Linked DNA regions of Homo sapiens. The protein of the gene in region 1 interacts with the protein of each later gene in a biochemical or structural test. Each region holds a gene or a part of one and is shown on either strand. Other genes may lie near its edges.

Region 1 (7,024 bases):
GCAGTTCTCCTTCCTCAGTCCCTTGAGTAGCTGGGATTACAGGCGCCCGCCACCAAGCCTGGCTAATTTTTGTTTTTTAGTAGAGGCAGGTTTTCACCATGTTGGCCAGGCTGGTCTCGAACTCCTGACCTCAGGTGAGCCACCCGCCTCAGCCTCCCAAAGTGCTGGAATTACAGGAGTGAGCCACCATACCCAGCCTGTTTTGTCTTTTATAATAAAATGTGCATTGCACATAGTAAAACTATCAAATGGATTAAAATAACTGGGACACTTTTCCTAGCAAACTGTTTCCATCTAGCTTCTTTGGTGCATCAATTTTTTATAGTGAAGGGTGCTTGCAGTGTTTTATAAATTAGAGTTATAACTCACCAGATACTAACATATTAAAATTATGGTATTTAGGAACAAATACGGTCTCTGTCCTTTCAAGGCTAACAAAGAGACCTTTTAGATAGGACTATAGAGGATTTTAGGTTATGCAAAATGTAATTGCTTGGATTGGTATATATAGCCCTTCTATTGAGCTTAGAAATGCTTGTCACATCAGCATGGAATAGGCTGGGCACTGTGCCTCATGCCTGGAATCCTAGCACTTTAGGAGGCCAAGGTGAGAGTATCATTTTGGGCCAGGAGTTCAAGACCAGCCTGGGCAACACTGCGAGACCACATCTCTGCCAAAAAGAAAAAAATCGCTGGCCATGGTGACACATGCTTGTAGTCCTAGCTAACTGGGGGGCACTGAGGTGGGAGAATTGCTTGAGACAAGGAGTTTGAGGTTATAGTGAGCATGGTTGTACCACTGCACTCCAGCCTGGGCCACATAGCAAGACCCTGACTTAGAGAAGCATGGAGACCAGGAGTGATGGCTCACATCTAATATCAGCACTTTGGGAGCCCAAGGCTGGCAGATTACTGGAGGCCAGGAGTTCAAACCAACCATGCCAACATGGCAAAACCCTGTCTCTACTGAAGATACAAAAATTAGTTGGGCATGGTAGCATACCTGTAATCCCAGCTACTTGGGAGGCTGAGACATGAGAATCGGTTGAACCCAGGAGGCGGAGGCTACAGTGAGCTGAGATGTGCCCCTGCTGCACCCCAGCCTGGGCAACAGAGTGAGACTCTGCCTCAAAAAAAAAAAAAAAAAAAAAAAGCATGGAATGTCCGCCTGTGGGGTTTATTGTTGTTTTGCTTTAAGTAGATTATTTACATAATGTATGCAGAGGTGGAAAGTTTTGAATCTATAGGGATATTACTATTAAAATGAATTAACAGTCTTACACAATGGTTATGAGTTTAGCCAGTGTTAGCAGAAAGGCTAGAGATAAATCCAGTATAATTAGTTTAGAAGCTAAAGTTAAAGCTAAACTCAGCCCCCTCTCCATATGTTTTGGGTTTGTTTTTTTAGACGGAGTCTCACTCTGTCACCCCGGAGTGACAGGCTGGAGAACGGTGGCATGATCTTGGCTCACCGCAACCTCCACCTCCCAGGTTGAAGCAATTCTTCTGCCTTAGCCTCCCGAGTAGCTGGGATTACAGGTGCCTGCCACCATGCCCGGCTAATTTTTGTATTTTTAGTAGAGACGAGGTGTCATCATGTTGGCAAGGCTGATCTTTAACTCCTGACCTCAAGTGATCCACCTGCCTTGGCTTCCCAAAGTGCTAGGATTACAGGCATGAGCCACCGCACCCAGCCCTCTCCATATGTTAATAGGAGAAAAAGAGATGGTGTAATCCTCATGGAAGGCAAAAGGAGATTTCATAAACGCTGGTTTTCCATTTTTGTTTTATTGGTTTTGGTTTTTTTTTTTTTTTGAGAAAGTCTTGCTGTCGCCCAGGCTGGAGTGCAATGGCGCGATCACAGCTCACTGCAATCTTCACTTCCGGGGTTCAGGTGATCCTCCTGCCTCAGCCTCACAATGAGTAGATGGAACTACAGGCATGCGTCACCACACCTAGCTAATGTTTTCACATTTTTAGTAGAGATGAGGTTTTGCAATATTGGCCAGGCTGGTCTCGAACTCGGCCTCAAGTGATCTGCCCACCTCAGTCCCCCAAAGTGGTGGGATTATAGGTGTGAGTCACTGCACCCAACCCAATTTTCTTTCTTTTTTTTTTTTTGGGGGGACAGAGTTTCACTCTTGCTGCCCTGATTGGACTGCAACGGCGTCATCTTGCCTCTCTGCAACCCCTGCTTCCCAGGTTCAAGCGACTATCCTGCCTCAGCCTCCCAAGTAGCTGGGGTTACAGGCATGTGCCGTCAGGCCTAGCAATTTTTTTTAAGTAGAGATGGGGTTTCACCACGCTGGTCAGGCTGGTCTCCAACTCCTGACCTCAGGTGATCCTCCAGCTTCAGCCTCCCAAAGTGCTGGGATTAACAGGCGTGAGCCACCACACCTGGCCCAGTTCTCCTTTCAAATGAGGGAATACATATGTGTTTATTCCTGATTCAGGATAAGTGTAGGGCACCCTCCACCCACTTGTAGTTTTTGTTTTTTAAAAGTTTTTTTTTTTTTTTGAGACCAGTTCTTGCTTTGTCATTCAGGCTGGAGTGCTGTGGCGTGATCTCAGCTCACACAGCCTTGACTTCGCAGGCTCAGGTGATCCTCCCACCTCAGTCTCCATGGTGGATGGAACCACAGATACATGCTACCACACACCCAGGTTATTTTTTGTAGAGATGGGGTCTTACCTTGTTGCCCAGGCTGGTCTCAAACTTCTGAACTCAGGTGATGCATCCACCCCGGCCTCCCAAAGTGCTGGGATTACAGGTGTGAGTCACCATACCTGGTCCCCCCATTTGTAGTTGTGTTTTGTTTTTTTGTTTGGACAGAGTTTTTGCTCTTGTTGTCCAGACTGGAATGCAATGGCTTGATCTCGTGAACCCCAATCCTATTTCAGACAGCCCCAATCCTATTTCGGACAGCCCCTTTATGATTCTCAAATTAGTGCTGTGTAAATGGGTATTTTAAGAATCAGGCCGGGCGCGGTGGCTCATGCCTGTAATCCCAACACTTTGGGAGGCCGAGGAGGGCGGATCACGAGGTCAGGAGATCCAGACCTTCCTGGCTAACAGAGTGAAACCCCGTCTCTACTAAAAATACAAAAAATTAGCCGGATGAGGTGGCGGGAGCCTGTAGTCCCAGCTACTCGGGAGGCTGAGGCAGGAGAATGGCGTGAACCCGGGAGGCGGAGCCTGCAGTGAGCAAAGATCACGCCACTGCACTCCAGCCTGGGCAACAGAGTGAGACTCCATCTCAAAAAAAAAAAAAAAAAAAAAAAAGAATCAGCCGGGTGCAGTGGCTCATGCCTGTAATCCCAGCACTTTGGGAGGCCAAGGCGGCAGATCTCCTGAGGTCAGGAATTTGAGACCAGCCTGACCAACATGGCGAAACCCCATCTCTACTTAAAAAAAAAAATACAAAAATTAGCCAGGTACGGTGGCATGCGCCTGTAATCCCAGGTACTCAGGGGGCTGAGGCAGGAGAATCGCTTGAACACCCAGGAGGCAGAGCTTGCAGTGAGCCGAAATCACACCATTGCACTCCAGCCTGGGCGACAGAGCAAGACTCCATCTCAAAAAAAAAGAGTCTCACTCTGTAACCCAGGCTGGAGTGCAGCAGTGGCGCATTCTCGGCTCACTGCAACCTCCTCGCCTCCTGGGTTCAAACCATTCTCCTGCCTCAGCCTCCCAAGTAGCTGGGATTACAGGCACCCGCCACGGTGCCCAGCTAATTTTTGTATTTTTAGTAGAGACAGGGTTTCACCATGTTGGCCAGGCTAGTCTGGAACTCCTGACCACAAGTGACCTGCCCGCCTTGGCCTCCAAAAGTGCTGGGATTACATGTGTGAGCCACCGTGCCCAGCTGACATTGGCACTATCAAATGAAGTGTGGCTTCATGTGAATGAGCACCTGAGGCACAGAAAAGCCCCAACAGCACATTTTATTCAGCTTCAGAATACAAAATGGGAAAAGAGCATATGCTGAAGGTGAAGTTAAAATATCAATGAGCAAGTGGCTCCAATTCCAGCACTCTGGGAGGCTGAGGAGGGAAGACTGCTTGAGCCCAAGAGTTTGAGACAAGATAAGCCTTAGCAACATTGTGAGACCCCCGTCTCTAAAAAAAATTAAGTTAGCTGGGTGTGGTGGTGCACACCTGTAGTCCCAACTACTGGGGGACCAAGGCAGGAGGATGGCTTGATCCCAAGTTTGAGGCTGCAGACAGTGATGACACCACTGCACTCCAGCCTGGGCAAAGTAGTGAGACAGTGTCTCAGAAAAGAAGAAATATTCCCGGAAAACCGCAAGTTCAAAGGTATACCAAGGATCGGGTGCAGCAGCTCACACCTGTAAACCCAGGACTTTGGGAGGAAGATCACTTGAGCCCAGGAGTTCAAGACCAACCTGGACAACACGGTAAGATCCCGTCTCCATTTAAAAGAAAAAAAAAAAAAAAGGCCGGGCGTGGTGGCTCACACCTGTAATCCTAGCACTTTGGAAGGCCAAGGTGGGATGATTGCCTGAGCAAAACGGCGAAACCCCATTTCTACTAAAATACAAAAAATTAGCTGGGCATAGCGGCACATGCCTGTAGTCCCAGCTACTTGGGAGTCTGAGAGAGGAGAATCGCTTGAACCTAGGAGGCAGAGGTTGCAGTGAGCCAAGATCGCGCCACTGCACTGCAGTCTGGGCAACAGAATGAGACTCCGCCTCAAGAAAAAAAAAAAAATTTACAAAGGTATACCGAGGAAGCAGGGAAGCAGCCTCATTCTAGAATCTATCATTGCCGGCTGCGGCAGTAGCTCACGCCTGTAATCCCAGCACTCTAGGAGTCTGAGGCGCGTGGATCATGAGGTCAGGAGTTCAAGACCAGCCTGGCCAAGATGGTGAAACCCCATCGCTACTAAAAATATATAAAATTAGGCCAGATGCAGTGGCTCACACCTGTAATCCCAGCACTTTCTGAGGCCGAGGCGGGTGATCACCTGAAGTCGGGAGTTTGAGACCAGCCTGACCAACATGGAGAAACCCCATCTCTACTAATTAGCCGGGCATGGTGGCGCATGCCTGTGATCGCAGCTACCCGGGAGGCTGAGGCAGGAGAATTGCTTGAACACAGGAGGCGGAGGTTGCGGTGAGCCGAGACCGTGACATTGCACTTCAGCCTGGGCAACAAGAGAGAAACTCTGTCTCAAAAAAAAAAAAAAAAAAAAAAAAAAAATTAGCCAGGCATGGCGGCAGGCACCTGGAATCCCAGCTACTCAGGAAGCTGAGGCAGAGAACTACTTCAACCCAGAAGGCGGAGGTTGCAGTGAGCCGAGATCGCACCAGTTCACTCCAGCCTGGGCGACAGAGCCAGACTCCATCTCAAAAAAACAAACAAAAACCAAAACTATGGGCCGGGCGCGGTGGCTCACGCCTGTAATCCCAGCACTTTGGGAGGCCGAGGCAGGCGGATCACGAGATCAGGAGATCGAGACCATTCTGGCTAACACGGTGAAACCCCGTCTCTACTAAAAATACAAAAAATTAGCCGGGCGAGGTGGCGGGTGCCTGTAGTCCCAGCTACTCGGGAGGCTGAGGCAAGAGAATGGCGTGAACCCCAGGGGGCGGAGCCTGCAGTGAGCCGAGATCGCGCCACTGCACTCCAGCCTGGGCGACAGCGAAACTCCGTCTCAAAAAAAAAAAAAACAAAAAAAACAAACAAAAAAAACCCCAAAACTGTAATTGCCGATCCACACAGTAAATAGTAAAAAGTTCAATACACTATTTCCATAGCAAAATATGCTCACTAGAGTATTTTTTGAGCTCACGTAAATATGATCTTAGGTGTTTAACAGCGAGATTGGTTCTGAACAGTTGATATTTACAAAGGTTTTTTTTCCCCTGAAAAGAGACAATCGCTAACCACAAGACCCAAAAATGATAGCTTGTAGATTTTTAAACCGAGAAAATCCAATTAGTCAGGAGAATCTTAATTTAGCAATAAAACACTGGCTTGCACTCAAGAAATTTTTCACTTCCAGTTTCTACTGCCTTCTAGTTAAAGTCTAACTGAACACAGGAAGAAAAATTAAAAATCCAGTTGCCAGGTTACAGTGCACAGGAAATCAATACTGAACAAAGGCCACCCACCATCAGATACTCAAGTTATAGCAATTAACAATATAGCATATGTTCACTACGACAATTTGTTTTGCAGGCTAAAGATGGACAATTTTATTTTGGAGATTCGTTCCTACACAGCTGAATGACAGGAAGATTTTTACCAAAATCAGAGACGCAAGTTTCTGGACAACTTCCTAATTATATACAAGACATTAGACAGGAAAAACAACAACTTCCAACATCTCTAAAATAAATAAAACATTTTACTTTTTCTCTATTTTTAATCGGTCGAACGACAATGATTCAAAAAGAAAATGCGAAGTAGCACCCTCTGGCAAGGTTAGTTAAGCGGAAAATCTTAAGTGGGGGAAGGTCCTAAAAATCCCAGCCTTCTCCAAGATAGGTCCGAAATTAAGAGCTTTTATGTAAATTATGAGACAAACTTTTATAACTTAGGATTTAAAGAAATGTAACTACGAAATCGCTGAAGAGCAAATGAGTAAATCAAATGAGAAAACACACTCCCAAGCCTTTAAGACACCCAGCATAAATCTCTCTCTCCCCAGAGCTTAAAAAAAATTTATTAGCCAGGCATGGTGGTGCTTGCCTGCAGTCCCAGCTACTCGGGAGACTGAGGCAAGGAGGATCGCTTGAGCCCGGGAGGTAGAGGTTGCAGCTGCACTCCAGCCTGGGTGACAGAGGAAGACCCTGTCTCCAAAAAAAACACTTTTAAAACAAGTTATCAACAAAATAAACCCTTATCAGCCAGATTCTTAAGACTGGATGACGACCCATTAAAGGCTTCTTCCACTTCAAATAACTGACTTACAACTTTCATTTTAAAATTTAAGTCTTTAGCTTGTTAAGAGTCCCTGAAGAATTTACTAAACGGCATATATTATTTTTAAAAGAAT
Region 2 (6,641 bases), on another chromosome or scaffold:
GGCTCCTGTGCCTCTCCCTATCAGTTGGCCAGTGGAGCTCGAGAACAAACTGTTGCTGCCAGATAAAGCAGCAAAGCCTGCTCCACTGCCCAGCGCAGGCCCCCTTCCCTTCCTCCACCAGGCTGAGTGGAGAACCCTAAAGCTACGGGACAGGCTCCCGTTCCCCGTGCCTACACAGGGTGCTGGCTCTGGCAGAAAGACAGTGTGCCCGCCCCGCATCACCTGTCCGAGTGCGAACACCTTGGGAAGGGGGTTCCTGGTGGTCCTGTGACAACCAGAGACCCCCAGGGCCAAGGTGAGGCGCCCACCCCTGGTCCCTCAATAAAGAACTGCAAGCACATGCTGGTCCTGGGGAGTCGGGCAGGCACGGAGCTAGCTGCAAGCATCCGTCTTCCCCCAGGAGGCCACTGCAGCCCGGCCCTTCTGTGCCCTGGGCCCCTCCTCATTGCAGCACCACCCACCGCACCACCCTGGGACAGAGGAAACACATGGAGGCCATAGCATAGAGCCTGTCTGTTTATAGATCTCTGCCTGTCTTGTCCGTCCATCCACTGTGTGTATATATCTGTGTATCTCTGTGGAGCGGGGAACGGGACAGTTGTGTAAAAATCCAAAATACAATTCTGACTATGAACAACCTGCAGGGTCAGTCCAGGTGTGGCTGTGAAGCCCCAACCAAACCACAGGACACGGGGTTGGGGGAAGGCAGACTGGCAGGCCAGGGTGACCCTCCTGACCAGAGGTGCTGCCCAGACCCGAGCCCGTTTGTCCTACTGGGGCTATGGCGGCCGACCCACCAGTGCCCAAGACCGCGAGGCTGCCCTGCCTCCCCAAGACCAGCCCTGCACTGGGGGTGGGGGTGGGCGGCTGGCCCAGCTCCTCCGGGGCCTCTAGGAGACAGTGGGGTCCTTGGCTTTGGGAGGCTCCGAGCCTGTCAGCAGGGAGATGGTGGGGTCCTCGGCGAAGCCGTCCCCTTCGGAGAAGTAGGAGCCCTCTCCCAGCTCAAACAGCACCGGCAGGTCGTTGCTCCCGGTGTCCACGGAGCCGGGGTCCAGCAGGAACAGCGGCTGCGCTGTGTAGTGCACCAGCTGCTTCCCTGCGGGGGTGGGGGTGTCAAGGCGGTGGGGGGTTGGGGGCAGAGGTGGGGCCGGTGGGACTTGGCTCACCTGAATCCGGGCTGCTGTTCTCTGCCTCGGGAGGCCTGGGGGGCTCCTGGGGAGACAGGAGCTCTTGGATCTGTGGGGTGGAGACGGTATTGTGAGCACTCCCGCTGGTCTCGTTCCCCCTCACCCCCCGCCCGCCTACGCACACTGGCCAGGCTGCTGTCAAGGTCAGGCAGGCTCATGTCGGGCACGGTCACCGAGGGGCTGAACAGCTGCGGAGGAGGGAGGGAAGTCAGAACAGCACCCGGGGGCGGGGCGGGGAGGCGGGGCGGGGAGGCGGGGCGGGGAGGCGGGGAGGCGGGGCGGGGAGGCGGGGAGGCGCGGGGAGGCGGGGCGGGGAGGCGGGGCGGCGGCGCGGGGAGGCGGGGAGGCGGGGCGGGGAGGCGGGGCGGCGCGGCGGGGAGGCGGGGCGGGGAGGCGGGGCGGCGGGGCTCCACTCACGTCCAGCAGGGCACTGGTGTCCACGCTGAAGCCGTGGCTGCTCAGCATGGTCTGCAGGTTATCCAGGTTGGAGTCCATAGCATCCAAGTGGTCACTGAGCTCATTCCTGGCCCGGGATAAGGCGGTACCTGAACCAGTGCCCCAGGCCCCACACCCCAATGCCCTCCTGTGGGAGAAGGGCTCCCCTTGACTGTACCCCCCAGGCTGCACCCCCGTGTACGCCTGCACAGGCTGGAGGGGGCAGCGCATTCGAGGACGGCCTGGAAGGCAGTGGAGGCTCTGTGCCCTGCAGGGGTGCGGCTGGGCCTATGCTGGGCATCCCTTTGCCATGAGGGCCTGGGGGCCTTGGTGGCAGTGGACCCAGGAGACAAGGGGCGTATTCAGCTCCAGCACAAGGATCAGGGATTTCAGTGTTCAGGGTTGGTGAGGTTTCCCGTTGCACTGGGAAAACAGGTGGGGCTCTGCTCAGTGTGTGGGTGGCTCAGTCCCTGCCCTGGTGCTGCTGTGGGGATGAGACCCACGGTCTGGTGGCTGTGACCAAGAAAGCCCTAGGCCACAGGGCACACCTGGGCTATGGGACGGACAGCCAGGCTGGGTCCCAGAGGTGCCCTGGAGACCCTGCCTGACAGGAAGTGCAGTCAGCACCGCAGTCTGGATCCTGCCAACACCAGAGGCCGTGCCAGAGCAGGGAGGCCTGTCCCTGTCATCCCTGTCACAGGCAATGACCACAGGCCCGTGGCCAGGGGAGCCATGACGACACTGAGCCCCCGCCACAGAGGGGTCTCGGCTGCTGCCGCCCAGGCCCGACGCTCATGCCCGGCCAGGCTGGGTCTGGTCCACGGCTGTGTGGGAGGGCCCGAGCGCTGGCAGAGCCCTCCTCCCTCCCCAGTGGGGTCAGCGCTAACCCTGGCTGGACTTGGCCATGCGGAGAGGAAGAGGGGCAGGGGAAGAGGCGGGCGACCCTAGACATCTGTGGAGTGCGAGCCAAACTGCAAGATACAAAAACAAGAGCCCCCATTGCAGGCAGGGGCTGGGGGTGTGGAGGCCGGCCCTGCTCACCATCTCCTGCCATGTGTCTGGGCAGCACGACCTGCCAGGGCCCGTGGCCTGTGGCGAGGGTGGCGGCAGCAGGACGGGTGGCTGAGAGCAGGGCCCGGCAGCCTGTCCGGACATGCCCGTGGCTTCTGTGGCGTTTGGGACTGTGGGGTGATCTGGCTGGCACCTGTCTCCCTCCCCAGCCCCGAGCTCCGAGGTTGGGGGTAGGGTCCTGCCTCGCCAGCTGCCCTGCTCAGTCCACTGGGACAGTCGGGGCTGAAGCCCAGGGCTGTGCGTCCAGGCGCTGTGGGTGGGGCCAGGGGTGGGCGGCACTCACTTGTCCAGGCAGGCTACGCTGAGGCACTTTTCAGGGGTGGAGGTGGGCGGGGGGGAGGGAGGCCGGCCCTCGGTGTCCGTGTGGCCCCTGGCGTCCGTGAGGGCTGTGACGGAGGCGGGGGCAGGTTCACTCTCCCGCAGGATGGAGTCAATGAGGGCGGTCGGGGACAAGAGGGTGTCCACGGAAGATGGGCGCCCGGGACTCGCCTCCTCTACCCGGGGGCTCTGAGGCGGGCTGGGGGGCTCCTCCTTGACACGCACCAGGGGGCTGCTGGATAGGGGCCTGCACACGAGGGGGGCCAGGTGAGCTGGCGTCTCGGCCAGCCCCACCTCATCCCCAACTCTGCCCTGGGCCCACAGGGGCTCGCCTCATTGGGGGACAGGATGGCTGGGGTGATGCGGCCCCCACCTCTCGTCTATGCTCCCGCCGGGGGAGGCCATGGGGCTGGCAGGAGCCAGCTCGGTGATGTCGGAGATGATGGGTCCAGAGCTGGCCACAGCATCAGGGGCGTAGAGGCTGGAGCTGCTGTAGGCTGGGGAGGGGGCCTGCAATCAAAGGCAGGAGGTCCATGCAGTGCCGGCAGGGGCAACCCACCCCACTGCCGCCTGCATGCCTGGGCGGGTGCCCTGTCTCCGGCACTCACCGAGTAGGGGCCCGAGCCGTGGACGTGCTCCAGGGAGAACTGCCGGCTATACTTGGGCATGGAATGTGCTGAGCCACTGTCGTTCAGCATCAGGGGGCTGTGGGGAAGGGTGCAGGTCAGCCACCACCCCCCACCTCGGGGTACCCGGGGCACAGCTGACAGAGAAGGGGGACAGCCCTGGGCCCCGGGTGGTGGATGCAGGCATCCCCAAAACCTCACATCTTTCTCTTCACCCCCAGGATCCGGTTTGACTGCACCAGTGAGATCAGGAACTGAATGAGCTGTGGAGAGAGAGGACACAGTTACCCCGGCCCTTGTGGGGCCCCCGCCGGCCCTCTGGCCCTGCCCCCACCTTGTTGACGACTTTCTGTTGCTGGGCATGCTTCTGCCGAAGGCTGGCCACCTCCCGCCACAGAGCCTCATTCTCACTGCAACAGACCAGGCTGGGTCAGTGGGGCCCAATCCCATGAGCCCCAGGGCTGAGGGAGCCCCACAGACCCTCCCTGTCCCCCATGCAGGAGCAGGGGTAAGTGTGACCATGTCTGGCCTGGCCCACCCCAGGATGAGAACTTGTGTGTGGAGGGACTGGGGGCCAGGGCCAGGGCTTGCTGGTCCCACTGCCCCTCCCTGCCGGGGACACCTGGTGTCACGTAGGGTGTTGGGGATGGATCCATGCGAGCCAGGTGCACCCGGATCCTGGCATCCATCCTGGCAAACACCTGGAGGGCTGCCTTGGACACAGGCCAGGAGCAGACCCTTGGGCCGCCCTTCCAAGGCCTGAGCAGCCAGGTTAAGGGAGGACGGTTCTTCAGGCTGCGACACTGGCTGTCCCATGTCCTGTAGGTGCTCAGGGCCCTCGCCAGGCCTGGAGGTGGCTCAGGGGTGGGGAAGAGCTGTCCCCAGCCAGGTGAGCAGGGCCATGACCGCGCTCCTGCTGCTCTGGGAGGCTGGGCCCTGTCAAGCCTGTGAGTCTTCTTGGTAGGCCAGGTCCACGTGGCCGGACTCCAGGAATCACAAAGCCGGTGGCTCCTGCTAGACCCCATGCAGGAGAGTCTGAGGCCAAGGCCTCCTCCATGACGTGGGGGTCAAGAGCGCCTGCTGCACGGAGCCGAGGAAGCCGTACTGGCATTGGGGTTCCCGCATGCCTGGAGCCCCAAAGTGGACGTGAGACCTGAGCTGGCCTTCCGAGGTGGGCTTGCCTCAGTTTCTCAGGTGCCACCGTGTGTTAGGCTCCTGCTAAGGTTTCCCCAGAGCCGCAGGGTCCCGGTGAGGAGGGGCTGGGGGCTAGCTCCATGGGCCCAGGCGAGTGTGGGACAGCGGTTCCAGGAAGGGCCTGAGGTGGGTCTGACCCCAGGCCCGAGGCGGGTGGGACGGGTCTGCTGTGCAAGGCTTGTCCTCAAAAGTAGGCTGGTGGGTCCCGCCAAGCTCGGAGCCAGGCAGAAGCCAATGGCCCAGAGGGCGCTGGGGATGTGCAGAGCAGGGGACCCTCCCAACCCCCTTCTGCACATGGAAAACGGCTGGCCCCAGAGCTGTTGCAGCAGCCACGGGCGGCGGGGCTGGGGCAGAGGCCCAGGGTAGATGTGCGTGGAGCGGGAGGGTGGAGCTGAGCACCTGGCCCCGGTCAGGGCCCTGCCCCCACAGCACCCGGGGCCTCTTGGTGGGCGCCAGGACCCGCTGTGGCCCATAATGCTGGTGTGGGACCTACTGCTTCATGGCCAGGAGCTTGGAGTCCATGCACTCCTGCTTCCCCTTCATCAGCTGCACGTCCGTCAGCAGCTTGGTGACGCTGTCCTGGCGGATCTTTATGTCTTCACTCTTCAGGGTGGACACCTGGATTCCCGAGAGGGACAGGAGTCACTGGAGCAGCCTAGGAGCTTGGCAGGCTCAGGCTCGTCCACTGCAGCCAGGTCCCTCAGGAAGGGGCAGGCTGGGGTGGGAGCCCTCAGGGAGGGGCGGGCGGGGAGAGCTGTGGCAGGTGAGACCGGGCAAGGGTGCAGGGCCGGCACTCACACTGGTCACTTTCCTCTTGATGTTCTCAAGGAGCTGCTCCTGGCCACGCAGGAAGCATGGGTGCTGGAACTCCGTGTCGTCTCTCTCTGGCTTGACCAGGCCGCCCTGCTCGATGTGGACCACTTTCCGGAAGCCATCTGCACATAACAGGGAAGGGGGCAGCTCTGCCTCAGGGCGGGACCAGAACCCCTGAAGAGCGGCCACTGCTCCAGGAGGCTGCTGCGGGGCTTGGCCATGGTCAGACCCTGCCCTGCCCCCTCAGAGCCCATGCCTGGGTGGCCGAGTGGCCTTGGTCTAAGGGAGACCCTGTGTCCCCACAGGGCTCCCTGCGCCCGACACACGTGGAGTACAGCTCCGGCTTCACGGTTCTTCCATGGGGACCCCAGGTTCATACCCACAAGGACCCTCCCCCATGGAAGAGGCGGCTGCTCCCCGGCCCCCAGGCTTGCAGGGTCCCACGCCATGCCCTTGGCCAGCACAGGACGCCCCGTCCTTCATCACAGGGTCCTCCTGCTGGGGTCCCGCCATCTGCAGGTCTGCCTCCCGCACCCCTGCGCTGCCTGGAGGCAGCACTCACACATGTTGAGCTGCCGCACGAAGCTGGCCATGTTGTTGTGCTTGAAGTACTTGGGCAGCACCTCCTTGGCAAACTGGCCCTGGTCGAACACGTGGAAGCTGTTCCCGCTCTGAAAGGGAGACACATGGGTGGGTCACGCGTGGTGGTGAGGGGCAGCGTGCCCAAGCCGCCCCTTCCCCAGGCCGCCCCTTCTGAAACGCAGGCAGTGCACGTTCCACCTGATGGGGCTGGGGCCATGGGAGGCCCAGGGGGCTGGCGGGAGGCGAGTTCGTTCCTGGGACCACCTGCCACACGGGCCTCATCTGTGCAGCGTGACCTGCATCCTCACTGTGAGGCCCAGGACTGGGCGGTGGGCAGATGCGAGGCCTTCCTCTCAGTCGGAAAGCCCCTCCCCAGGGCTTCCAGAGAAGGCCACGTTTCCACTCACAAAGCATC

The links. Proteins that work in one complex are often made in the same cells at the same time.
Region 2: the proteins of PTGES3 (region 1) and HSF1 form a complex in vitro, tested with the Homo sapiens proteins (2 studies listed by BioGRID).

What each region holds. Positions count from the first base shown.
Region 1 is NC_000012.12:56,678,279-56,685,302, forward strand, and holds part of PTGES3 (prostaglandin E synthase 3), read right to left. Parts: intron 1-7,024. UniProt on the Homo sapiens protein: Cytosolic prostaglandin synthase that catalyzes the oxidoreduction of prostaglandin endoperoxide H2 (PGH2) to prostaglandin E2 (PGE2).
Region 2 is NC_000008.11:144,308,580-144,315,220, reverse strand, and holds the end of HSF1 (heat shock factor protein 1), read right to left. Parts: exon of another isoform or gene 6,316-6,641; coding exon 6,207-6,315; intron 5,767-6,206; coding exon 5,630-5,766; intron 5,450-5,629; coding exon 5,325-5,449; intron 4,048-5,324; coding exon 3,972-4,047; intron 3,901-3,971; coding exon 3,839-3,900; intron 3,717-3,838; coding exon 3,620-3,716; intron 3,522-3,619; coding exon 3,385-3,521; coding exon of another isoform or gene 3,344-3,384; intron 3,259-3,343; coding exon 2,977-3,258; intron 2,594-2,976; coding exon of another isoform or gene 2,510-2,593; intron 1,711-2,509; coding exon 1,605-1,710; intron 1,376-1,604; coding exon 1,310-1,375; intron 1,237-1,309; coding exon 1,167-1,236; intron 1,097-1,166; coding exon 891-1,096; 3' UTR 501-890; downstream 1-500. UniProt on the Homo sapiens protein: Functions as a stress-inducible and DNA-binding transcription factor that plays a central role in the transcriptional activation of the heat shock response (HSR), leading to the expression of a large class of molecular chaperones, heat shock proteins (HSPs), that protect cells from cellular insult damage.